7 linked regions of the Homo sapiens genome follow. The protein of the gene in region 5 interacts with the protein of the main gene of each other region in a pairwise test. Each region holds a gene or a part of one and is shown on either strand. Other genes may lie near its edges.

Region 1 (2,527 bases), about 18 Mb from region 5:
TGTTTATATCCTACTGCTCAAGGTCATCACCAAGGTCTGATTGAAAAATTCAAAAAATTGCATCCTCAGGCATAAATGGGTTTTAAAGGATGAATTAAGAATATTATTACCACATAGCTAGAATAACTCCTCAATCTGTGTTTACTAAATAAATTCAAACTTTTAATGAAACCTTTGAGGTTAATTGCATTGTAATTAAACTTTCAACAATTGGGTTTAGTTTGAAAATTATTCAACTTGATTTACTCCTTTTGAAAGAAGTAAACACATTTCGGGTATGATCTCATGGTATGGTTTGTGTGGGTGTTTTTATCTTTGTGGAAAATATATTATTAGGTACATGAAGCAGGGGGAAATTAAGACCCTAAATTCGAGGATATTATCTGTATTTAGGAACAGCTGAGCTGTTGATCAAGCGTTTTCTATGTTTGGTTATAAATTTGGGGCAGTTAATTCAGTTATTGTCACAATCAGGGATAAAATGTGATACAAGGGTTTTACGTATTTAGAATGTAGAGCTACCTCTGGGTGTTTCTGATTCCATGTACTGTGTAACTGAACCTTTTTTTATTTCCAGGACTTAGCTTTAGTCTTTTCTCAGATCGAAGTGAGAAACTGATACTTCAGAAAAATATTGAAAATACATCTAACCCTTACACCTTAACCTTGTGTCTGTAGCTCCTGCATTAATAACATTTATCATACTGGTTAGGCTCAGTAATTTACTTACTATAGTTACCTTAAAGAGCCACATTTAGAATATATCATATTCATATAAACTCGATGATAGTTACTTTGTAGCTGAAGGTAAGACTCTCCTTCCCCTCATTTCCTAGCTAGAAAAACCTTGGGCTACCCTAAACAGGCAACATCTACTTTGCATAGAAGTCATTCAGTGTTCAGAATTGTATCTGTGAGGAAAATGTTTTAGAATTGATACAATTTGCAAAATAGTTCTTCTGCCTTCTATAGGTAATGTGGACCGAACTACCATGTACAAATTTCCATCTTCTTCTCTGTTGTGCTATTCTGGAATCAGAAAAGCAGCAAATAATGGAAAAGCATTATGGCTTCAATGAAATACTTAAGGTAGTTATTCCTTTAATTCAGATTTTAGTGTTCTGGCTTTTCTATTTGGTGGTCCTGATATACAGAACGTTTCCTTGGAACATTATTAAATCTCTTGAGTAACTTAAATTGTGTCAATAACAGTGCTAGGAATGACTATCTGAGAATGACAGTTCAAATACATATTGGCCAGTTATTTTTACCTGGCTAATTAGGAAGAAAAGGAAATTCAACAAGTGCTCTTTTATGTAGTTTAGTTTTTCAAAAATTAATTGTCTTTTGATTATAACTTTGAGATATCAGACTTGGAATAGCTGCTGGATTTAATGTTCCATAAGCTTATTAGCTAGTCTTTAGCTTTAAAACTTGAAATAATCTAAAGAAAGATATATTGAATTTCTTACGTATTTGTAGTATATGAATGTTTTTATTTTAAGGATTTTATCTGCAGTGAAATATAACTGGTAATAAATTGTTTATATAATAGAATATAATAGTGTATTCAGTTTCGATATCATTTTATTTTGTTGATACTTTTTAGCATATCAATGAATTGTCCATGAAAATTGATGTGGAAGATATACTCTGCAAGGCAGAAGCAATTTCTCTACAGATGGTAAAATGCAAGGTATACAGTGTTTCAAGTAATTGCAAGATTTGTTTGTTTTTGGTGGGTTGAGATCAAGAAAGATTTTTCTTCTTGGAAATAAAATAGCAACTTTAGTAAGCTGAGGGCAGGCACAAAGTATTGGCTGGCTTTTTGTTTGCTGTTCTAGATTTACAGCACTTAATTGAAAACAGTTGACTATGGCAGATAGGAAACAGCTAATAATAAGGCAAAATGGTAAAAGTAATGAAAATATTTCTATAACAAAGAGGCTGTAGAATTTCAGCAATGATATATTACCCAGTTGAGCTCATGAATGCAGAATAGGCTGTCATATTAAATATGCAGAATCTCTAAACAAAAATGAATGCTAATCAGAAATAATTAAATCAATATTATTTAGCCTGTGTCACTCACTTATATTAGTCAAGTTATTAATTATTTTAAAACAAGGCAAATTTGATGTATTATCTGAATTTGAACCAAAGCAGTATACTTTTGATGTGTTTTAGCTTTTTCTTTCTATTAAGAGAAAGGGCCTTGCTAAGTTGCCCAAGCTGGCCTTGAACTCCTGGGCTCAAGTGATCCTCCTGCCTTAGTTTCCTGAGTAGCTGGGATTACCAGTGCATGCACACCACTGTGCCCACCTCATGACTTTGCTTTTTTTTTGAGACAGAGTCTTGTTCTGTTGTCCAGGCTGGAATGCAGTGGCGTGACCTCGGCTCACTGCAACCTTCTCCTCCTGAGTTCAGTCGATTCTCCTGCCTCAGCTTCCCGAGTAGCTAGGATTACAGGTGCCTGCTACCATGCCTGGCTAATTTTTGTATTTTTAGTAGAGACGAGGTTTCACCA
Region 2 (3,500 bases), on a different chromosome or scaffold from region 5:
TTCATTGCCGTTAGCAGGCAGGCGCGTACGTGCACACACAGGTCCACATGCACACACTTTCTGTATGGCAGCTCGGATTGGGCCACCTCCTAGGATTTTTTTTTTTTTTTTTTTTCTGGTGATTGATTCAAGACTCGAAGTCTTAAGTTACCAACAATCGTAAGCCACGCCTGTGTACACAGCAGGGCTCCTACGCTCTGGCAAAGCATCCAGGCCTTTTTAAGACCACCTGTTCTAAAAGCAAATCTACAATAAGAATGCAACCAAGCCAGGCCGCACTCCCCGCTGAGCACACGCCTGGAAGCACGTTCTAGATCCTGCACCCATCTCGTCTGCCTCCAGCCAGGGCCCTGGCTCGCCAGCCTTTGGTCTCGAACTTTGTTTCTGAGAACACAGCAGACATACAGGGTGCTGGGAGAGGACAAGGAAGCCAGCCCCTAGAGCAGCAGGTGCTCACCGGGCCGCCCACCACACTGAGGCCACGCCAGCTGGACCAGCCCCTCCAGGGCCCCTGCGCTTGGCACCCGGCGCCCAGCCAGCTCTTGGTTCCCGTGAGCACTGTGTGCACTCATTTCATGGCCTGTTTATCTGCCCAACCAGAAAACAGGTTAGACAACACGAGCTCTGCTGTGCCTTCATTTCATTCACACACTTACGTCTCTAGAGCCGACCTTTCCCTGGTGGCAGGGGTCACATTGGCTGCCAGGCAGGCTGATGGCGTCACTGTCCCTCGAGGGGACACTGGTGGGCAACGCAGGAACCAGAAGGGAGGCATCTAATCAAACGAACATCCCACTTATCCCGGCCCCAGAGTGCCTGCCGGCATTTCCGGTTACATTCCCCCCCACCGGCCCTCACTCTAGAACACTCGCACAATGTGATTTGAATCGGGTCTCTCAGGCACCCGAGCCAAAGACCATGGTACTAGGTTTTCAGGCAAATATCTACAACTCCCCTAAACCTCGGTACAGCCAGAAAAAAGTCAAAGAGCAATGGCCAAGGTCAAAGACCCTAATGGGAATGGCAGACCTGTGGGACTCACACCCTTTCCACCAGCTGAGGAGGCCTGTGCCCGTCACACCGTGTCTCACCCTTCCTTGATGTTTATTTTTTTGAGACGAGGTCTCACTCTGTCGCCGAGGTGGGAGAGCAGTGGCACAGTCATGGTTCATTGGAGCCTCAACCTCCTGGGCTCAGGCCATCCTCCTGCCTCAGCCTCCCTAGTAGCTGGGACTACAGGCACACACCATCACGCCAGGCTAATTTTTTGTAAAGATGGGGTTTCACTATATTGCCCAGGTGGTCTGAAGCTCCTGGCCTAAGCAATCCTCCCACCTCAGCCTCCCAAAGCACTAGGATTACACACATGAGCCACTGCACCCGGCTGATAAAATTTTTAAAAAATCACCAGGATGCTCCACTCCATGTCTCACGTGCTGCCCAGCGGCCGCCTGCTCTCAGAAAGGCTTGCGTGAACCCAGCTACCGCATCTCGCCCGCTTCACTGTGGGCATAAGGCAACCATCCCCGCCCCGCAGGCAAAACAACCCCTCAGCATTTCTAAAACTGCCCGTAATTGCCCTAAATTGCTCCAAAGGCCTTTAGAGCACTCCCGAAATCTCTCCATGCGCTGCTGGGTTAGTATGGGGTGGAGGGTGACGCCGCAGGGACAGGGCTGGCTGTCTGCTTCTCTACTGCTGCGGACCCCTAGAGACACAGGGTGGGGGGCAAGTTGGTTCCCACACAGCATCCCCATGTGCTCCAGGTCCCAGCCACTCTCAGCCCCGCCCCTGGGGGTGGGTGTAGCATTCACCACACCGTGCACGGCGCAGCCCCAGCAAGTCCACAGATGGATCGGATGAATGGCAGCCACACAGCGGAGCTCACACAGACCAACGTGGGGAGAGCGAGAGGAATGAGCCGCTGAGGGGGCGGGGAGCCACTGGGTACCTACCTCCTAAAGCAGGACAAGCAGGGACAGCCCGTCACAGAACAGAAAGGTGGGAGCCACAGGCAGAAGGAAAACAACAAGAAGGCACATTTAAACCACGCGTCAAAAATCACAGCCACACCAAACCGAGAGAGGCACACAGGCTCTGTGGAGATAATGCGCTTGCTTCTCGTGCAGGAAGCTGCCCTGGCTGGATCTGGATGCTAACTCAGCAGTTTTCTGGGACGGGCCGTGCAGCCTGGGCGCTACTCTCTGCCGCGGGCATGGCTCTGAGGCCCCGGCTCGGAGAAGCAGCCGTGGCCATGCAGCTACCGAGAGCGGGCTCTGGCTTAACCGCGTTTCTTTTTAACGTCTCTGCCTGCGGTGGGGGGCATTCCTACGATGAGCCTGGGAGGAACCCGAGGGGCTGCTGCCATGGGCAGAGGGGTCACGCCCGGGTCCCGCTGGGCCGGCGGCTCACCCAGCTTCAGGAGCCAGCCCTCGCGGTCGGGGTTGAAGAAGGTGTGGGTCAGGTCGTTCCCGTCGTCCTCCGGGATCTTAAATGGCTCGTTCTTAATGCTCTCATACAAATTCTGCAAGGAGGGAAAACAGCAGCCAGTTCAGAGACTCGGAGGAAAATGGCTGGCCGGGCAGAAAGCTCAGCGGGACCAGGGCGGCAAGGAGGCTTGGGAGGCGTGTCTAGAGCCGCGGGCGCTGCGGCCGCTCACAGCGAAGAGATCCTGCAGACGGCAGCGGCCGCGGGCCGGGGAGCTCACCCTCAGCAGCTCCTCAGGGAGGTCCCCGCCCTCGTTGATGCCGCGGTTCATGGCGATGAACCGTTCTGCCGTGGGCTTGTCACGCACGTTGTGGTTGTGGAGGCTGGTGTTGAGCATGATGATGGCGAATGACAGCACGTAGCACGTGTCTGCAACGAGTCCGGGGTGCTGGGCTCAGCCAGAACCTCCAGTGGACAGTGGGACCCCGCGTGCTGGGGGCCCGCCTGCAAGAGGTGCCCGGCCCACAGGTCGTCCTCGCTCAGGGAAGGCAGGTCCCCAGGAACACACGCTGGGCTGTGCCCACAGGGGCCGCCCCCTCCAGAGCTGGAGGCTGTGCCTGGCAAGGGGCCAGGCTGTGGGCTCTGCACTGACCTGTGGACTGGAAGACCCCGGGGTTGCACAGGCAGTAGCGAGAAGCGAAAGCCTCCATCATGCGATCAATCTTCTGCGCCTCCCCGGGCAGCCTGAAGCTCCATAAGAACTGCCTGTGGAGACACCAAAGCCATGGGAAGCCGCATCAGAACCAACACCGCCTCACGGCCAAGGGCGGCTTCTGCCCAGCTCAGGAAGGACGTTTTCCTCCCGAGCCTGGGGTACAGCTCTGGCAGGGGCTTGGGGGCGCAGAGACAGAAAGGAGAAGACCCAGGACAGTCTCCTTCCGTTCCATAACTCGAGACACGCTTACTGATGGCTCATCTTTTTGTAACTACAACCAATTCAGCAGCGAGGCCGGTTGTCTCTGCCTAAAAAGTAAATATCCAGGATCCTGGCACTTCTCTGTCCCCATTGCCACCA
Region 3 (4,226 bases), on a different chromosome or scaffold from region 5:
TAAGTAAGTCAGTGGCCCAGAGTTTGGAAGAGGTTGTCTGCCCCCAGCTCTGCTACTTTCTGGACATAGAACCTTGGGCAAGTCATTGCAGCTCTCGGGGTCCTCCTCACATAAGAGGACAGTGGCCAACTGTAGGACATGTCATTTTAGAGCTGTGAGGTACACAGCCCATATGGCAGTACCTGTCAACCCTGGACCTCCTTCCTCCTGAGGTTGAGTTGAGAATTCCACGAAATAAACCATAGGATTCATGCACACACCAGGCTGGATCTGCTACTCACTAGAGATTGACTCCCTTCTCCTTCTCTCACCTGAGGTACATTCCTACATTACAGCATCTGGAAAAGTATCCAGCTCTGGGGTTTGGTGACCTGGTTTCTCCAGGGTAAAACTTATGTACAGAGGTTTTTAGGTCCATGTTGTCATCCTGTAACTGGGGGAACCTTTCTGATCCTAGAGAAGTGATTGAGGTGTGACCCTTGGTGGCTTAGTGGATGCCAAGGTCAATAATTAAAACCCAGGGGTGTCATCATATCCTAACTTGGGGCACCCTTGGAGAGGCTTACCAGAAAACACCCTCGTTGTTGTTTTTATTTCTCAGTTTTCCAACAGATGGAGAAGCAGAGGTGTAGGGAATGGCCGGAACATGTGTGGGATCTGAATTTGCCCAAGGTCCTTATCTGGTGCATCAGAGAGTTAAAGGCCCAAGCCAATGTTCAGACAGTGAGGTCCAGAGGGAGGAAGCATCCTGGCCAACAGCAAGCAGCTGATGAACAGCAGAGCATTAGAGGACAGAGATGAGGAGGAAAGGAGAGAGGTGAGGGAAGGACCTGAAGCTGCTGCCAGGACTGAGAGAGGAAACCATAGGCAAGTCTTTTCTCTTGGGTCCCTGGAGCTGCCTCCTGCCATTTTTCATCCTCTATTGCCTGTGTGGACATGTGTTCACATTCACATGTGCCAGCACACATAGGGATGTAGAAAGCCCTGAAATAGCTAGATTGAGTCCTAGCTTGTAATCTGAGGTCTGGGGCAAGTGATCAGTACACTTGTCATCTGAGGTCCTTGAGCCTCAGTTTACTCATCTGTAAAATGGGGTTGCTTGATGCCTGCCTTGCCCACTTAGGTAGTAAAATGCACAAACCCAAATGGTCTACCTCCACAGCCTGCACTGATCCAGCCTCCCCCACCACCAGCAGAATAATCTGGGAGGTTGGGCACATGACCCTGCATCAAAGAATGCATGAGTGCCTCTCTGCACACAGCCCTGGGCAGTGCCCATTTCTCTTTCAGCTCAGTGAATGATGGAAACTCATGGAAGACAGCAGACAAAGCAGCCCCAGGGATAGGGGAGATTCCAGAGAGGCCCGTGACCAGGCCACAGGGATGCTGGGGCTGTAAACCAAAAGCCACTGGACTCTGTAAACCCACTGGGCACCACAGAGGCAGAAGGGGTGATGAGTGAGAGGCGAGTGGTAGTGGACTTGCCCACCAGTGCCAGCTCCAGCATGCCCCTCCAGAGGCGCAGGGCGTCCTTCAGGGGGCCACGGTCATCATCCTCCCTGGAGAGCCCCCCAGCCTCCAGGACCAATGCCATGAGTGGCCTTGTCCGAGCACCCGGGGTCTATGTAGGAACAGCACCCAGTGGGTGCATAGGTGGCTTGGGTGCCCGTGTGACCCGCCGGGCCCTCGGCATCAGCAGTGTCTTCCTTCAGGGCCTGCGGAGCTCAGGCCTGGCCACCGTGCCGGCTCCAGGTTTGGAGAGGGACCATGGTGCTGTTGAGGACCTAGGGGGCTGCCTGGTGGAATATATGGCCAAAGTGCACGCCCTTGAGCAAGTCAGTCAGGAGCTGGAAACACAACTGCGGATGCACCTGGAGAGCAAAGCCACACGCTCGGGAAACTGGGGTGCCCTACGGGCTTCCTGGGCCAGCAGCTGCCAGCAGGTAAGTGTCCAGGCTGTGCCAAGGGCTTTGCAGAGGGCTGGGAGGGGCTGCTGAAGGCAGCGGGTAGGGTTGTGAGTAGGCTGAGGCCAGAGAAACTGACCATAATCCCCTACACTTTCACACTTAAAATGGTAATGATAACAACAATGCTACCTTTTACCGAGGTTTACTAGGAGCCCACGCTAGCCCCCATACGTGCACTACCCACTGTCTTCTTTAAACTTCAAAGAAATGCTATGCAGTGGATCATTCACTGATTGCATTTTTCAGATGAGAAACTGAGGCATGTAATTTGCCCAAGACTTCAAAGCTAGTAGAGGGATGGAGATGAGATTTGAACCTGAATTTTTGTGCCTCCAAAGTTGCATTTGCCCCATTACCCTGGGGCTGCCTCAGTCACCTTTACTGTTGAGAAGGGATTTTTACAGCTATTATCCAATCAAATACCATTGGATGGATGAGGTGTTAAGAACAATGAATAAATGGAGGTGTGTTCCTGTATCCACCTACAACCACGCTGTTCAATAGAAATATGAACTACATTGGTAATTGACAAGTTTCTATTACCCACAGTAAAACACGTAAAAAGAAGCAGGTGAAGTTAATATTATAGCTTATTTAACTCTATATGTCCAGAATGTTATTTCAACATGTAATCAATACAAAATATATTAATGAGGTAATTTACATTCAAGTAGAGCTTTCTGCGTGATGGAAATATTAATATCTTATATCTGCACTGTCCAATCTGGCAGCCACTAGCCATATATGGCTATCAAGCACTTGAAATGTGGCTAATGAGACTGAGGAATTGCATTTTTATTTTATCTAATTTTCATTAATTTAAATGTAAACAGCCACAGGTAGCTAATGGCTATCTTATTGGACAGGGAAGGATGCAGAGGTTTCATCTTTCTCCCTTGCTTGGTCAGCCCTGCTTTTCCCACTCTCCAGGGTGATTTCTGCGGAGTCTGGAGCACATCCATCATGTCTGGCCTGCAGCCTGTAGTTCTAATGCTGGGACTCCAGCCAGCATTACACCTCTCAGCTGGTCTCTCTGTGGATAGCTGGCTTCACCTCTCCTCCTCCTCTTTCTCTCCAGATGCTGGCCTTGGGATCCCTCTGAGCAAAATCAGTCTCTAACCCACCAGGGACTGCCAACTCAGACCCTTGGCCCCCTGGAGTCCAGTATGCAGCCTCCCAAGAGGAGGTCACAAAATTTTATTTGTGTATAGCTGGGGGAAGCTAAGCAGTTGCACACAGGGACTCCCCATTTGCCCCTCCTGCCTCCCACTTCATCCCAGGATGCTTCTCCTGCACTGCTGTCAGTGCCCACTGACAGCACAGAGTGCATGATGAACAGCACCATCCTCTCAGGCTCTCCCCCTGGTGCTGCTGTTCTGCTTGCATCCATCTGGGCTGCAAGGGAGAGCCATCTTAGAACAGTCCAGGGCCTTAACGCCTGTCAAATCTAAGAGGCAGCCATTCCTCCAGGATTCTTCACAACTGTCCTTATTCCAAATATTGTGCCATAACAACCACCAGAACATCCCTAGATACTCCAATATGTCAGCATCTGCTGGACAATCGCTTGCAATCAGATGCCACACAGACTTGTCAGGAGAAATCAGGTATCCCAATGGCTAGGTTAAAAAGTAGGGCCACAAAACTTAGTTTATACTCAATAGATACTGACTTGTTCTGGCTCCAGATAGCTACAAGAGCCTTTGCAACTTACTAACTTCTCTGGGCCTCAGTTTCATTATCTACAAAATGGGTATAACAATGCTTACATATTCCAGCAAATCTGTAGACAAATAAGAGCCTGGCTCCTGCTTACAGGTAGAGTACAGACTAGGAAGCTCTAAAATCCTGTGAGAGCACCACAGCCACACACCAAGACATGCGACCTCTGTAGTTGAGGGTCAGGATCCCACATGGGCTCACTTTCCTCTTAAGTGACTATAAATGAGGGCCTGGGTATGAATAAAGTTCTCTTTTTCTTCTTTTTTAAAAAATCATGGACTTGAAGATAGAGTAAGACCAATTGATAAAATGGAGTTATTATTTCTTTTTTTTTTTTTTTGAGATGGAGTCTCATTCTGTCACCCAGGCTGGAGTGCAGTGGTGCGATCTCAACTCACTGTAACCTCCACCTCCCGGGTTCAAGCAATTCTCCTGCCTCAGCGTCCTGAGTAGCTGGGATTACAGGTGCACGCCACCACGCCCAGCTAATTTTTTTGCATTTTTAATGGAGATGGGGTTTCACCATGTTGGCCAGGC
Region 4 (3,500 bases), on a different chromosome or scaffold from region 5:
GCAATCAGATAAATGCGAACAAAAACAATGAAATACCATTTCTCACCCATTTATTAGGCTGATAAAAAAATATATAAAGTTTGACAATTACAGATACTGAGTACTGGAAAAGAAACATATGCTCCTGGTACAGTATAAATTGGAATTCCAGATTACCAGGATTGTGTGATGCCCCTAGGAAAGTCATCAGCTTCAGCACTTCCTTACTTCTCTGGATTCATGCTTTTGCCTCATTTTTTGGTCTCTACAGATTTCCTATTGCTTCCTTACTAGCAAAGTGACAACAATAAAGTATAAAATAAGCATGCTTATTTTACATTATATCCACCAGAATTTCTAGATGTCTTGAAATGGAAGTATTTTCATGGTGTCTAATTCAGTATGTACACTGAAACAAAAATTGAGTGAGTTCACTTTCAATTTAATGATATTAAACTCAATATTCACTCAACTTTATATATGCCCTAGATTTATAAATCTAGTAAACCTTTAAACTCACTTCCTATAGGAAATTTATTTTTCTTAAACTGATGTATTTCATAGTTGTTCTCACTAATTGTATTAAATACTATAAAAAATAAAATGGTATTTTACAAGTTAAACTGCATTTATATAAATGTCTTGTAAGTTTATTAAAGGTAAATTAGAAAGTTAAAGCATTTCAAATATTCTCTTACCTGTTCAAGCGCTTGGTTTTTCTCTTGCTCTATTTTCCTCATAGTTTCCTTTTCAGCTTTGAGTGATGATGATGACACAGTTTTAACAGACATAAAATCAACAGTCATCCACTCATCCCTCTGTTAAAAAAAAAGACATAAAATCAACAGTCATCCACTCATCATTTCAATCTGAACTGATTAGAATTTAATAAACACTTGGTAATAAGAGCAGGGACTTTGGAGGCAATCAAACCTGAAACAAGTCCTACATGGCTATATAACTTGAAGCAAGCTTCTAAATCTCTCTATACTTTAGTCTCTCCTCTATAAAATGGTATAAAATCCCTACCTTTCAGGATTGTTTTAAAGAGTAAACAAGATAACAGATCTAAAGCATCCAGCCCAAAGCCTGGCACACAACAAGCAATCAAACTTAGTTCCTGTTCACCTTTCTTCCTTCACCTGTGGCTAACAGTGGACAAATTACATTCTTCCTGAGGCAGATGAACTATAGCCCAAAATTTTTGAACTATTCAACTGTTAAGTATTGTTAAGAAAATTAAGGCATGAGGTGAAGGGAAAAAAAACTGTGATGGAACTCCACTCACTATAGAAGGGTCAGACAGAGATACAGTATAAGGCTTTAGGGACATAAGGGGAAAGTGCCACTTCTTATCAACAATCAAAAGCATGAAAGCCTCTAAGGAACGAGAATAGAGAGGAACACTCACTTTCTCACAGTAGAAGGGGAAGGGGGTTCTAAACATTCAGCAAACAGCAGTACTGCCAAAATTATTCCTAAAGTATATTGTTTTCAAAGTCTAATTGTTCTCCTGAAGAAATTTTAATCATCTTTCATTTTCATATTCATTTATTCTCAAAAGTTGATACTTTTTTCTTTAAAACCAAGTGATAGGCCAGGTGCAGTGGCTCACGTCTCTAATTCTAGCACTTTGGGAGGCTGAGGTGGAAGGATTGCTCAAGCTCAGGAGTTTGAGACCCAGTCTAGGCAACATAGGGAGACCCCAACTCTACACAAAATAAAAAAATTAGCCAGGCGTGGTGGGCACACAACTGTGGTCCCAGCTACCAGGGAGGTCGAGGTGGGAGGATTACTCGAGCTTGGGAGGTCGAGGGTGCAGAGAGCTCTGATTGTGCCACTGCGGCCCAGCCTGGGCAACAGAGTGAGACCCTGTCTCTAAAATGAATGAAAGAGAGAAAGAGAGAGAGAGAGAGAAAGAGAAAGAAAGAAAGGAAGGAAGGAAGGAAGGAAGGAAGGAAGGAAGGAAGGAAGGAAGGAAGGAAGGAAGGGAGGGAGGGAGGGAGGGAGGGAGGGGGAGGGAGGGAGAGAGGGACAGAGAGGGAGGGAGGGATAGAGAGGGAAGGAGGGAGGGAGGGAGGAAGGAAGGAAGGAAGGAAGAAAGCAAGGAAGGAAAATCAAGTGGCTTGCTTACCTTGATAATTTGGGTGTCATCTTTTCCTGACTTTTCATCTTTCACTTTCCAGGCTTTTTCCTTGTCAGGAGTCTGGGATGGAACAGCCTCAACCCACTCATCTTCAGAGCTCTAAGAACATTTAGCATATAAGTGAAATTGTCAAATTTGCATACTTTGATATAAAAATTCTGTGCTGTTAAGTGGTAGAAATTCAACATCGTAGAAAAAAATTCTTACACTGTATTTCCCCTTTACAAAATGGCAATGAAATTTTAAAGAGCTGGGTGTGGTGGCTCACACCTGTAATCTCAGCACTTTGGGAGGCTGAGGCAGGCATATTACTTGAGGTCAGGAGTACAAGACCAGCCTGGCAAACATGGTGAAACACCATCTCTACTAAAAATACAAAAAAGTTAGCCAAGCGTGGTGGCGCATGCCTGTAATCCCAGCTGCTCAGGAGGCTAAGGCAGGAGAATCGCTTGTACCCAGGAGGCAGAGGTTGCAGTGAGCTAAGATCACACCACTGCACTCCAACCTGGGCCACAGAGACTCCGTCTCAAAAAAAAAAATTTTTTTAAAGAAAAAACATATAAACCCACTAGTTTGAGTTAAGCCCACCAAACACAACCAAATTATTTTTATTTTCTCATCCATTTATTATCAAGCCAAGAGAAGGCAAAAAAACAAAAATGGGAACTGCCAAGTAGAGACCTCACTTCAGCACAGAGCTTCAGTGACTACCAACGTCAAGTAGTTACTCACATCTCTGCTTCACTAGAACAGGGGAAACACCACCCAGGTAAACGAATTTGCTGTTTGCCCCTAAGTTTCACATTTTGAGATTTCCCTTGATCTAAAACTGCAGATAACATTATCTTCTTCAACACCCTCCTGAAGCTTTATACCAATTCCCATATTCTCAGCAAATGATGTCTTCTTTTACCTCATCAAGAAAACTAGGGCCACCTTATCCTCCTACCCACCGCCCAAAACATTTATGGCTGTGCCTATCCTTATTTCCAGTTAACTCCTCCTATTTAAGGCAGATCTTGCTCTAAAGATTTTGATAACTCTTTCTGTTCCTCCAGGACCTTGCTCCATCAATTATCTTCTCCTCTCACGGCATTAACCAAAGATCCCTAATGGCCTAGAAACAATTTCAAGCATTTCCCACCCTTTTTTTTTTTTTTTTAAGGAGGGAAGGGGGACCTTCCTTGACCCCGTATATTCCTCCTCTAGCAGGAATTAATCTTCCGGCTTCCATTCTCAGATGAACTTCTTGAAAGAGTAGTCTACATGCACCGCCTTCACACTCTCACTTTCATACATTTTCTCAAAACTCTACAATACATCTACTGTCCCCATTAATCTACTGAAACTTCTCCAAACTCACCAGTGGCTTCCA
Region 5 (3,500 bases):
AACTCCTCACAACACATCCTTTTTTCTTCTCTGCCTGCTTCATCTCCTACAGGCTGCCCGGCAGCTCTGACAGACTCAGAGGACGAGTCCCCAGAAGACATGAGGCTCCCACCCTATGGCCTTTGTGAGCGTGGAGACCCAGGCTCCTCTCCTGCTGGGCCTCGAGAGGCTTCTCCCCTTGTTGTCATCAGCCAGCCGGCTCCCATTTCTCCTCACCTCTCTGGGCCAGCTGAGGACAGTAGCTCTGACTCGGTGAGCAGTGGAGGAGCCTGTGCAGAAGCAGTAAGGAGGGGCAGGGCCAAACCCAAGTGTCCCAGCCTGGAGTGCAGCACGATCTTGGCTCACTGCAGCCTCTGCCTCCTGGGCTGAAGCGATCCTCCCACCTCAGTCTCCCAAGAGTAGCTGGGACCACAGGCAGGCACCCCCGGCTAATTAGAGAAGGAATCTTAGCTATCCAGGGCTCTCTTTTTCCCAGGGGAGAGGAGGCAGGCCCAGCCTCTCTTCAGTGCCACACCAGTAGATATCATCCCAAAACCCAGACCAGCCCAATAGCCTCACTGCTTCTCCCCCACAGTCATTCTCTTATTATTCACCAGCCCCTCAAAACGCCTCTCCTGCCTCACTCTTCCTAAGCCCCTCAGGTCACTGTCCTAGCCTTGGCTGCTCTTCCCATACCTGTCCCAATGTGCTGCTCCCCCATCTTGGGACACCACCCCAAAGCCCAACCCTGTCTCTTTGGCATCCAGGAGGCTGAAGATGAGAAGTCAGTCCTGATGGCAGCTGTGCAGAGTGGGGGTGAGGAGGCCAACTTACTGCTTCCTGAACTGGGCAGTGCCTTCTATGACATGGCCAGGTGAGTTCAACCAGCAAGGCCAGGAGGGAGGTGGGAGGAGGTCAGAGGGAAAGGGCATCTGTGTGGACAGTCACCAGGCCCTGCTCCCAACCCCTGCCCTTCTTGGCCTCAGCCAAGAAAAGGAGATACAGGTATGGTTAACAAGGAAAATGACTCACTGCTCCAAATCCCAGATGCCTTCAGGTAATCCCTACCCCTATCTTATCAATGCACTCAGAGGTCCTGCCTTTAACTGGCTTCTATGTTGTTCTAGCACCATCTTCTGCAGAGCCCAAATTGCCCTGCTTCCCCTCTCTCCTGCCTCTACCCCTTCCCCAACCACCAGGTAGGTACCTAGGGTCCTCCGGGGAGGAAGGGAGGTGACCATGGCCCCCAGGGATAGGAGCAGAGAGAAGACTGGGATCCAGCATCCATCTGGCTACAACTGAAATGCTTTCCCTCTTCCCTGACTTCCCTGGGTAACCCTTAGGGAAGGGAACCTATAGAGGTGGGGGTTTCAGGTATCAGATTGTCCCCTTCTGCCTTCCCTTTTATTCCCAGGTTCAAGGGGGCAGGCACAGGGAAGAGAGATTTGATCATCTAGTCCCGGTTTTGCCTGGATGTGAGATGGGCTCAGGGCAGGGAGGGGGTGATGCTGTCATCCTTCTCGGCTGGAGCAGGAAGATGAAGGACGATGTCAGACTCATTTTCAGCCTCATTAGGCAGCAGACGGAGATGGAGGGAGGAGAGCAGGAGGCTGGGGGATGGGCTCTGCACTGCAGAGACCAGCAGGGACTAAAGAAGAGAGGACATGGGGAACTGGAAAAATAAGCCTTCCAGGATTGTGGGGAGAAAGACGCTGTGGGAGAGGCCAGGATGCTGCATTAGGCACAGGATAACCTGGGAACCCAGGCACATGGGTCCTGCTCTCCGAAGTCTGCAAGTCAAGAAGGGAACAGAGCACGCCGACCCTCTCCCTTTCCCCTCTGTCTCTCTTAGTGGCTTTACAGTGGGTACCCTGTCAGAAACCAGCACTGGGGGCCCTGCCACCCCCACATGGAAGGAGTGTCCTATCTGTAAGGAGCGCTTTCCTGCTGAGAGTGACAAGGATGCCCTGGAGGACCACATGGATGGACACTTCTTTTTCAGCACCCAGGACCCCTTCACCTTTGAGTGATCTTACTCCCTCGTACATGCACAAATACACACTCATGCACACACACACTCACACACATGCATACACTTAGGTTTCATGCCCATTTTCTATCACACTGGGCTCCATGATATTCTGTTCCCTAAGAACTGCTTCTGTGTGCCCTGTTTTCATCCCAAGATTTCTCACTTCATCCTCTCCTACCTGGCTCTTTTGTCCCAGGGAGGGGTCCTGTTCGGAAGCAGTGGCTGAATTTATCCCCTGAAAGTGGTTTTGGAGGAACCGGGATGGAGGAGGCCTTCCCCTGTGGGAATAGAATCGTCCACTCCTAGCCCTGGTTGCTTCTGATACACAGCCACTGCACACACACACTCACACTCACACTCCCTTGTCTGATGCCCCAAAGCCAATTCCTGGGGCACCCTACCCTCTCTTATTTGGAGTTTCCGTTGGTTTACCTGAGTTTTCTCTGGGGTCTGCACAGAGGCAGCAGCATGGACATCATGGCCTCTCAGGTCCCTTTTGGTTCTCAGTTTCATTGGTTCCTCTTTCTGTTCCCCCATTGACTTCTGTGCCCCACCCTAGCCTTTTCCATAACCTTAGGTATTCAGTTTGGAGGGGTTTTTTGTATTTTTGAGGATTCCTGTATTCTGTATCCTCTCCTCGCATCTCCTCACATGGAAAGAAATAATGTATTTGTGCCTTCTGTGAGGAATGGGGGGAACAAGTGGTCCCAGGTATCCCCATTTCCAAGGCCCCCCTCCCTCTCCAGGTCCCCCCACAGCAATAAAAGCTTCCCCCTGATATCCATCCCTTTGTAGTTTGAACAAATATATTTATATGATATGTATGACTGTTGTCACAAAATGTGTTCTTATCATGAGGTGTGACTGGAACACAGGGCCCAGACCTCCAGCTCTTAGACCCTGGTGGAGGGAGGAGGGAAAGAGGGGACGCATCCCTGCCTCATGGCAGGGGATGCTGGGCAGTTACTGTCCTGTCGTGCCTCCTGGTGTGCTGGCCATGAGTGGGTTGTCTCAAGTGGGAGTCTGGCTTGGATAATGCGGCAGTTGGGGAGGGAGCAAACTCATGGGTCCCTGTCACTTCTGCTCAGGGTTTAGTCCCAGGGTGGGTGCATGCCATGGAAAAGTGGGACAAGTTTCCCACTGCCGAGAACTTCACCCTTCATAGCAGCCATCACTGTACCTTATGCCAAAGGACAGGCTTTATTCCTGTCAAGAGCGTACACCTTTGAGTATCTACTTAGTAAAAAATGCCCTAAGCCTCATACCTCTAAAGGCGATTTTATATTCCTCCTGTTTCTGTTTCTGTTTCTTTCTCTGTTGCCATCCCCTCATACCTGTATGCACACTCTGCCTCAACAGTCACAAAAACACATTCATCCACTCTAACCAGCTTCACAGGCTAGACAGACACATACACAGCATCGTAAAGCATTTGTTAAGGACCTGCACGCTCACCAAGGCTCTCAGCAATGGCCTGCACAAGCACATG
Region 6 (3,500 bases), on a different chromosome or scaffold from region 5:
CCTGCTGTCACGCTGATGTCGGCTGTCTCGATCATCTTCTCCTGCCAATGACCAATCACTCAGCTCGTCTTTACGCTCAGATTCCGTTTCAGAGGGGTTAGACAGCTCAGAATTTGTACCTTGGAAAAGAAAAGAACATAAACCACTTAGATTTCTATAAAAAGCCTTTTAAAATGTTCAAAATTATGTCCTACAAATTATTGTTTAAATAAGCAATACTGTTTGGCTGCTTCAAAGAAAGATCCATGAAAGTTAAAATCAATCTGAAACGTACTAAGGAATAATCAATTATTATACTATTAATATACTAGTATAGTATCTACTAGTTAATACAGATTAAAAAATAAACTGATGTGCAGAAGGCCGCTCACTTCTTCAAAACCAGCAGAAGAATCCCTCACTGCAGTCTGCTAAGATGTGCTATGTCATGTAATATAGTCAAAGGTGTGACCATCTCATCAGCAAAAGGGGATAATATCCAGGAAATACAAAGTCATGGAAGTTAAAAAAAAAACTGATGTGCAGAAATGCAGTCAACAGAAAAATTACAGAAAATATACAGAACATTAATTCCTAGGTTTTGGCACCAAAAAAAAAAAACCATACAGAACATCATTTATCAATATTAGAATGTACTTAGTATGGATAGTCAAATGTTTCTGCTGATTTGGGTTTTAGTAACCTAAATTATTAGTACAATAAAAATAACTTCAATATTTGAGTAAATTAATCATATTTAGAAAACTGAATAGTTTAACTGTATAGTGTATTTCACCATAATTTCATTGATTCTAGGGTATACTTTTCACATGTTAACATCTCTGAAATCAAGATATTTCTTATAATTGATGGCATCTTTATTATAAGCTAGAAGTAATTTTTCCAGTAGGTTGTATATAAAATGATGGCATGTTTTACTAGCATCTTAAATTGCGGTTTTTGCCATTAAAAGTAACTACTTTTACTTTTTGCTTTTCTTACTTTTAATGGCAAAAACTGCAATTACTTTTGCACCAACCTAATATTTGCAATTACTAAACAGAATTTAAGGTTTCTCTGAAACAGAAGGTCTCTCACCTGACAACAGAACTGAAGCCATGACCAGTGAGACAAATATTCAGCATTGCCTTTAAAAGTTTACAGACCATTTCTAACACTGCAACTATTGTAATGGTGACCTTTCAAAAATTTATTTAAACACCACAAAGATATAATCAGAGGCCTACATTATCATTATTTAATAATTACTGTAACTCAAATGTCAGATACATATGACTCAATCACTATCATATTCATTTCCACTTGTTAGTTCTGGGATGCCACTTCTTCTTTCCCTCTTATATGACCAAATATATCTCCTTCAGGGCCTAGTTCAAATTCTAACTTCAGACCACTGCAACTAAGACAGATCTCTCCCCATTTTTTGTTATCCTAAAATCGCCCCACATCTATCACAGACTGTGCCATGTTGTTATTTTTTCCCCCTGTGGAATTACTTCAAAATTGGTCTATGATAAAGGGTGGAACTCCATCTTATATGTCCTCAAATGCCTGGCAGAGTGTATAACAATTTTCTCAACCAAATAATTTGCTGCATTATTTTGAAGTTCATTTGCTAAACTCTCAGATAAGAGTGATTTCATGAAATACCTTGAAGTTCCCTATATTTAAACTCTGCAATCATTTGAGGAAAAATGCAAACAAGAGCTCTTCAGACATAAGAAGTTTTAAGTATTAAGGTGCAGGGAATAAAATGTAAAGTTTTATACATGAAGGTGCCTCACTTCCTTTCTCCTTTAACGATAACTCTAGGATGCCTACCTTTTCTCTACATGGTGTTAATAGATGTAACTAGTCAATTATAAAAACAATTAGGTAATTAGTTGGATGTGTATTTTTCAAAGAATACATCAAATTTCTATTACTCACTTTCAATTCTTTGTTGGGATTAGAATCTCAGGGAAGGGAATTAATTTCCCCTAACATTTATTTCACCAAATGACAAAAAGTACTTTATTAACAGGATGTCATAAAAGTTGTAATGAAGGCAATTTATCTTTCCTTGAATAGTGAAAAAAAAAGCCTTTCAGAATGTTTAAGAACTTCTGAATTTATTTACAAACCTATACCCTACCTGAAAACATTACCAAAATTCAGGGCAAATGAAGAATACTTCATTCTGAAGACTCTCTCAAAAGTTCATATTGAAGTATCCTTAGAAATCCAGTGTAGTATTTATCTAACCCCGTGTCACAGCAAGTAAAGTCTTCCTTAAATTTAACCTACATATAGTATTCAAGAGACTTAGAGGGAATGTCTAAATCATAGATTTCAGCAGGTAAAACAGATATTGAGGCCGTACCCCCCAAAATTTTAATGTATTGGCTAGTGCTCAACATTACTCATATTAAATAACTGTTAATAACACATATTAAATGTTTCTGTGATAGCAAAAAGGACTCTGCAAATGTGACTAAGGTTAAGGACCTTGAGATAGAGAGATTATCCTGGATTATCCAGGTGGGTCCAAACTAATCTCACTGGGTCTTTAAAAGTAGAGAAATTTTCTAAACTACTGAAAGGGGAATCCCCGCTAGACTTTCCAGAAAGAAACGTAGCCCAGCTGACAAGATTTTAGCCTAGTGAGACCCATGTCAGCCTTCTGACCAACAGAACTATAAGATAATAAATTTCTGTGGTCAAGCCTCTAAGTTTGTGATAATTTATTACTGCAATAGAAAACAAATACTCTAATAAAATCAGGGAAACCATTTATTCCAGCCTCTCAATTTTGTAAAACACAGGTTGGTGATTCAAAGTCGTTTTTTTAAACAAGCTTTAAAAGTAATGACACTAGGCCAGGCTGGTGGCTCACGCCTGTAATCCCAGCACTTTGGGAGGCGAGGTAGACAGATCACCTGAGGTCTGGAGTTTGAGACGAGCCTGACCAACATGGAGAAACCCTGTCTCTACTAAAAATACAAAATTAGTCAGGCATGGTGGTGCATGCCTGTAATCCCAGCTACTCAGGAAGCTGAGGCAGGAGAATCACTTGAACCCAGGAGGGAGAGGTTGCGGTGAGCCGAGATTGTGCCACTGCACTCCAGCCTGGGCAACAAGAGCGAAACTCCGTCTCAAAAAAAAAAAAGTAACAAAACATAATGACATCGTGTTTTTAACCAATTTTAAAATCATATTTTCCCCTCAAACTTCTAAAATCACCTTATGAAGATGGTTTATATCATTTTTCAATGGTTGGTTGTGCTAAGCTTAACAGCTAAAAATAATCACGTTTTATCGACTCCAAGAGGCCATCAATTTTAAGACATTATTTTATGTGCCATTAAAAAAGAAAATGCTGCTAAAGTTGTAAGATGTCCAATTTAACACACATACCAACTTCAGAGATGTTATACTGGGAAATGTTTCTTATAGTTCCTATTAAACTGATAAAACTACAGTACTCATTATATATATATATATATATATATATATAAATC
Region 7 (3,500 bases), on a different chromosome or scaffold from region 5:
CCCTGCTGGCCACCAGTGCCAGCCCCCACTGCTCCTCCTGCTGGCAGCCCCCAGCCTCGGGGTTTGCTCTGGGGGAGAAGCAGAGCTGGTTCTAGAAACTATCACTGATGCTCCTGCTGTGAGGCGCCAGGCCTCCCACTCACCAGCTGGCTATATCCTCCCACAGTAGGGGAAACTGAGGCCCAGGGAGGCAAAATCACTTGCCAAGATCACCAGGCATTGACAGAACTGAGACTGGGCCTGAAGGGAGCTGGGCTCCCCTTCTTTCCCATCCTGTCCCTGGCCTTGCTCCCCCAGGGCCATTCCCCAACAGCCCATGCAGCTTTCCCCCAAGATGCCCTCTCACTGGTCTTGGGGAGGCAGGGGGCTCCCTCTATCTCCCACTCGCACTTATGCCTGAGGCCCTCCTGTGGTTCCCTGCTCCCATCCACCCTAAGTGCCACCCCTGACACTGACCGATGAGGCTGCGGTATCCATGCAGAAGTGAGTTTCTCCGCTCCTGCTCAGGGCTCACAGATTTCCACTGCAGCTTCATGCGGAAATACTCATCCCTGAGTGACAGAGGGAAACAAGATGTGAGGCCGCCACTGTCTGCAACACCCAGAGACCTCCAAGCCTGGCGCCACCTCCCAGGTCAGCCCTGCAGAGCCCCTCCCTGACCACACAGACCCAAGCAGGTCACCTCGTCATTCTTGCCACTATCCCTTACACTTCACCTTCCTGGCATCTCTCACTACATAGCCTTGTGGCCTTTTGATGAAAATTTGTCACCCCCCACTGGACAGGGCACCAGGGACAGGGAATCGTCCAGCACTGCTGCATCCTCAGTGCCTGGCAGGTATATAACCTACACCAGGAATGAGGAGAGACGGGCCCTCCTAGGTTATAAAACATGCTGCAAAACTGTGATCATTAAAACAGTATGGCACAGGAATGAAAACTGCAATGGAGACAGACCATACAGGGGTGAGGATGGGTCTGGCTTGATCATTGCCGTATTCCACAGGCGCAGGATGGTGCCCAGATACAGCAGGTTCACAACCAGCGTCCACAGAACTTGCCCATTGGTGCCCTAGGAGGTACCAGGTGTCATGCCTGGCAGGGCAGGGCCTCCTGAGAACTCACGTTTTCTTGCGTATGTGGGCCTTGTGCTCCTCAGCTGTGCCTTCCCAGCTGAGGTACCCTAGGAGGAACTTCCAGGCCTCGCGCCGCAGGCTGGGGCTCAGACCCTGGGGGTGCAGGAGGGCAGGCAGCTCAGTGGGGCCTTGTTCTGGCCCTGCCCCATTCTTCCACCTGTCCTGGCACTCACCCCCGAGAAGATCCGGTTCTTCAGCTCAGGGACCTGCTGCAGGCGACCTTCAGGGCCCACGTGGCGTGCCCACTCCTCCTCTGTAACTGGAGGGCCCCGCTCCACGGTTGGCCGAGGCCCCAGCTCCACCTGCAGGCAAAGAGCAAATGAGCCTGGGGCTCGGCGGGGTGGTGGGGGGACCCAACCCAGCCTCAGTCCACAAGCTCAGAGAGCTTATTAGCTTGACGGATGACTAACATTCAGGGGCAGGCAGCAGCCTCTTCCGGGGCTCAGCAGCCAAGTCATCCCCCAGTTAGGAGGGGTCCCCCAATAAGGGTGAGCAGGTGCTCACAGTGTCTGGCAGAGCCATGAGCGCTTTCCTCATGCACCCCCTGAGGGTGTCCCATTACCATCCCCGTTTTACCAAAGAGGAAACTGAGGCCCAGGGAAATGAAATCATGCGCCCAGGGAGACACGGCCAGAAATAACAGGGAGGGTCCACTCACTACTCACACAGGAAATGACCTCGAATCCAGGCTCGGGCTCATCGTCGGGTGGCGGGGGAAGGTCGGAGGCGGCTCCCTCAGGCTGTGGCTGCAGGGCACCCCGGAAGAAGTTGGTCACTCGGGAGAAGCTGCTGAAGGTGGTGGAGTAGGGATCCTGGAGGAAGCGCTGGGGACGAGGCCAAAGGGAGGTCACGGCCCGCCCCTTCTCGTCCCTCCCTGCCCACACCCGCCAGGCCTCCTGCTGGGGACACTCACTGACACCACATTGGAGCTGTCCTGGTCAAAGAGCTGCAGGTGGTGGAAGGAGTTGGAGAGAGCAGAGGAGTCGTGGGGGAAGACAAGGTAGAGGCGGGAGTCCTGCGGGGAGCTGGGAGGCGGGAGGTGACGCACAGGTGATGCACAGGTAGGGGCCCAGTGTCCCAGGCTGTCTGTGCTCGGCCGACATCGGTTCCAGCTGCAGCGTCCCAACCACCCCTGGGCAACCCCTCATTTCAGGGAATGCTGTTAAAGGAGGCCCACAGCTGGATCCCAGGGGTGGGCACATGACTCGGGGCTGGCCAATGAGGGCCTTTCACCTTCCGGTCCAGTGTGACTGACTCAGGGACGAGCCAATGAGAAGCAGCTCTGGGATCTTGTTGGAACGTGGGGAAAGAGGTGCCTTCTATCCAGCCGGGTTGTTAAGCCACGGATACTGGGGCCCCAGAGAATAACGAACTCAGAGGGAAAAAGGATAACTGTTTCTAACATTTTGGGACCTGGGTCCTGCCTGAAATCAATACTCCTTTTTGACTTTTTAGTTATATGTGCTGGTCAACTCTTTGCCTGCCTTTAAATCAGTGTGAGTTGTGTTTCTTTCACAGCCCCGAGGGGTCACGCTGCAGCCATGGTGGGACTGGGCCCGGTTTAAGGCCCAGCACTGGGAGAGAGCTCACCTGGCCAACAGCAGGTAGCGGCTGAGGACGCGGAGCAGGGCGCGGGTGCCCCCGCGGTGGAAGTGCAGTGCGGGCAGGGAACCTCCAGCCTGGGTCACCAGAACCAGGTAGGCCCAGCTGAGGCCTGGCTTGGAGCGGCGGATGGACTTTAGCTCCCCCAGACTCACTGAGAAGGCCCAGGAGCCCTGGGGGCAGCTGGGCTCTGCACCTAGGGAGACGGCACTGTGTTGGGGGAAGCGCGTGGGAAGCCAGAGTCAGCCTTATCAACCACAACCCAGGATGTTCCTTCGGCACAGGCATCTCCTGAGGGCCCCGCCACAAGCCACCCCTCTGCCCCTGGCCTCACATTCCTTGGAAGCACAAATGAGTAAGATGGGAAGGGGGCCCAGTGGACATGTACCTTTCCAGAACCTTCCTAGGCACCCCTCGACCTGCAGGGTAAGGGCCCTATTCCTCAACCTGGCACTCGAGGCCCCTCGGGTCTGTCCTTCGCCCCTGCCTATCTTACCTCCAACCTTTCTTCACTCAAAATCCCACACTTGAGCTACAATGAAAGGCCAGCGGCTCCCTAAACACACGGGGGCCGCCTGCCTCTGGCTTGCACGGGCTGCTCTCTCTGCCAGAAGAGAAAACTCCCAAGAGTCCCTCAGTGCCAAGCTCCAGCATCACCTCTTCCTGGAAGGAATCTCCATTCCCCAGAGGGGTCACGTGCCTTCTCTGGATGTCCCCTGCACCCTGTGTGACCCCAGGATGGTGCAAATCACCCTAACTGGC

What was found.
Region 1: the proteins of CALCOCO1 (region 5) and TBC1D15 interact in binary tests that used the Homo sapiens proteins (3 or more experiments, as listed by UniProt).
Region 2: the proteins of CALCOCO1 (region 5) and CYTH3 interact in a two-hybrid assay, tested with the Homo sapiens proteins (one large-scale study listed by BioGRID and IntAct).
Region 3: the proteins of CALCOCO1 (region 5) and BFSP2 interact in binary tests that used the Homo sapiens proteins (3 or more experiments, as listed by UniProt).
Region 4: the proteins of CALCOCO1 (region 5) and CWF19L2 interact in binary tests that used the Homo sapiens proteins (3 or more experiments, as listed by UniProt).
Region 6: the proteins of CALCOCO1 (region 5) and FXR1 interact in a two-hybrid assay, tested with the Homo sapiens proteins (one large-scale study listed by BioGRID and IntAct).
Region 7: the proteins of CALCOCO1 (region 5) and TBC1D17 interact in a two-hybrid assay, tested with the Homo sapiens proteins (one large-scale study listed by BioGRID and IntAct).

The regions. Positions count from the first base shown.
Region 1 is NC_000012.12:71,919,759-71,922,285, forward strand, and holds part of TBC1D15 (TBC1 domain family member 15), read left to right. Parts: intron 1-954; exon of another isoform or gene 955-972; coding exon 973-1,089; intron 1,090-1,609; coding exon 1,610-1,696; intron 1,697-2,527. UniProt on the Homo sapiens protein: Acts as a GTPase activating protein for RAB7A. Does not act on RAB4, RAB5 or RAB6.
Region 2 is NC_000007.14:6,168,125-6,171,624, forward strand, and holds part of CYTH3 (cytohesin-3), read right to left. Parts: intron 3,191-3,500; coding exon 3,078-3,190; intron 2,855-3,077; coding exon 2,706-2,854; intron 2,523-2,705; coding exon 2,411-2,522; intron 1-2,410. UniProt on the Homo sapiens protein: Promotes guanine-nucleotide exchange on ARF1 and ARF6. Promotes the activation of ARF factors through replacement of GDP with GTP. Plays a role in the epithelial polarization.
Region 3 is NC_000003.12:133,398,630-133,402,855, forward strand, and holds the start of BFSP2 (phakinin), read left to right. Parts: upstream 1-1,426; 5' UTR 1,427-1,454; coding exon 1,455-1,943; intron 1,944-4,226.
Region 4 is NC_000011.10:107,440,826-107,444,325, forward strand, and holds part of CWF19L2 (CWF19-like protein 2), read right to left. Parts: intron 2,225-3,500; coding exon 2,114-2,224; intron 798-2,113; coding exon 678-797; intron 1-677.
Region 5 is NC_000012.12:53,710,453-53,713,952, reverse strand, and holds part of CALCOCO1 (calcium-binding and coiled-coil domain-containing protein 1), read left to right. Parts: intron 1-52; coding exon 53-252; intron 253-746; coding exon 747-853; intron 854-1,106; coding exon of another isoform or gene 1,107-1,178; intron 1,179-1,831; coding exon 1,832-2,009; 3' UTR 2,010-3,500. UniProt on the Homo sapiens protein: Functions as a coactivator for aryl hydrocarbon and nuclear receptors (NR). Recruited to promoters through its contact with the N-terminal basic helix-loop-helix-Per-Arnt-Sim (PAS) domain of transcription factors or coactivators, such as NCOA2.
Region 6 is NC_000003.12:180,964,670-180,968,169, reverse strand, and holds part of FXR1 (RNA-binding protein FXR1), read right to left. Parts: intron 120-3,500; coding exon 1-119. UniProt on the Homo sapiens protein: mRNA-binding protein that acts as a regulator of mRNAs translation and/or stability, and which is required for various processes, such as neurogenesis, muscle development and spermatogenesis.
Region 7 is NC_000019.10:49,880,702-49,884,201, reverse strand, and holds part of TBC1D17 (TBC1 domain family member 17), read right to left. Parts: intron 2,935-3,500; coding exon 2,727-2,934; intron 2,162-2,726; coding exon 2,050-2,161; exon of another isoform or gene 2,028-2,049; intron 1,961-2,027; coding exon 1,802-1,960; intron 1,439-1,801; coding exon 1,310-1,438; intron 1,230-1,309; coding exon 1,126-1,229; intron 941-1,125; exon of another isoform or gene 552-940; coding exon 457-551; exon of another isoform or gene 1-456. UniProt on the Homo sapiens protein: Probable RAB GTPase-activating protein that inhibits RAB8A/B function. Reduces Rab8 recruitment to tubules emanating from the endocytic recycling compartment (ERC) and inhibits Rab8-mediated endocytic trafficking, such as that of transferrin receptor (TfR).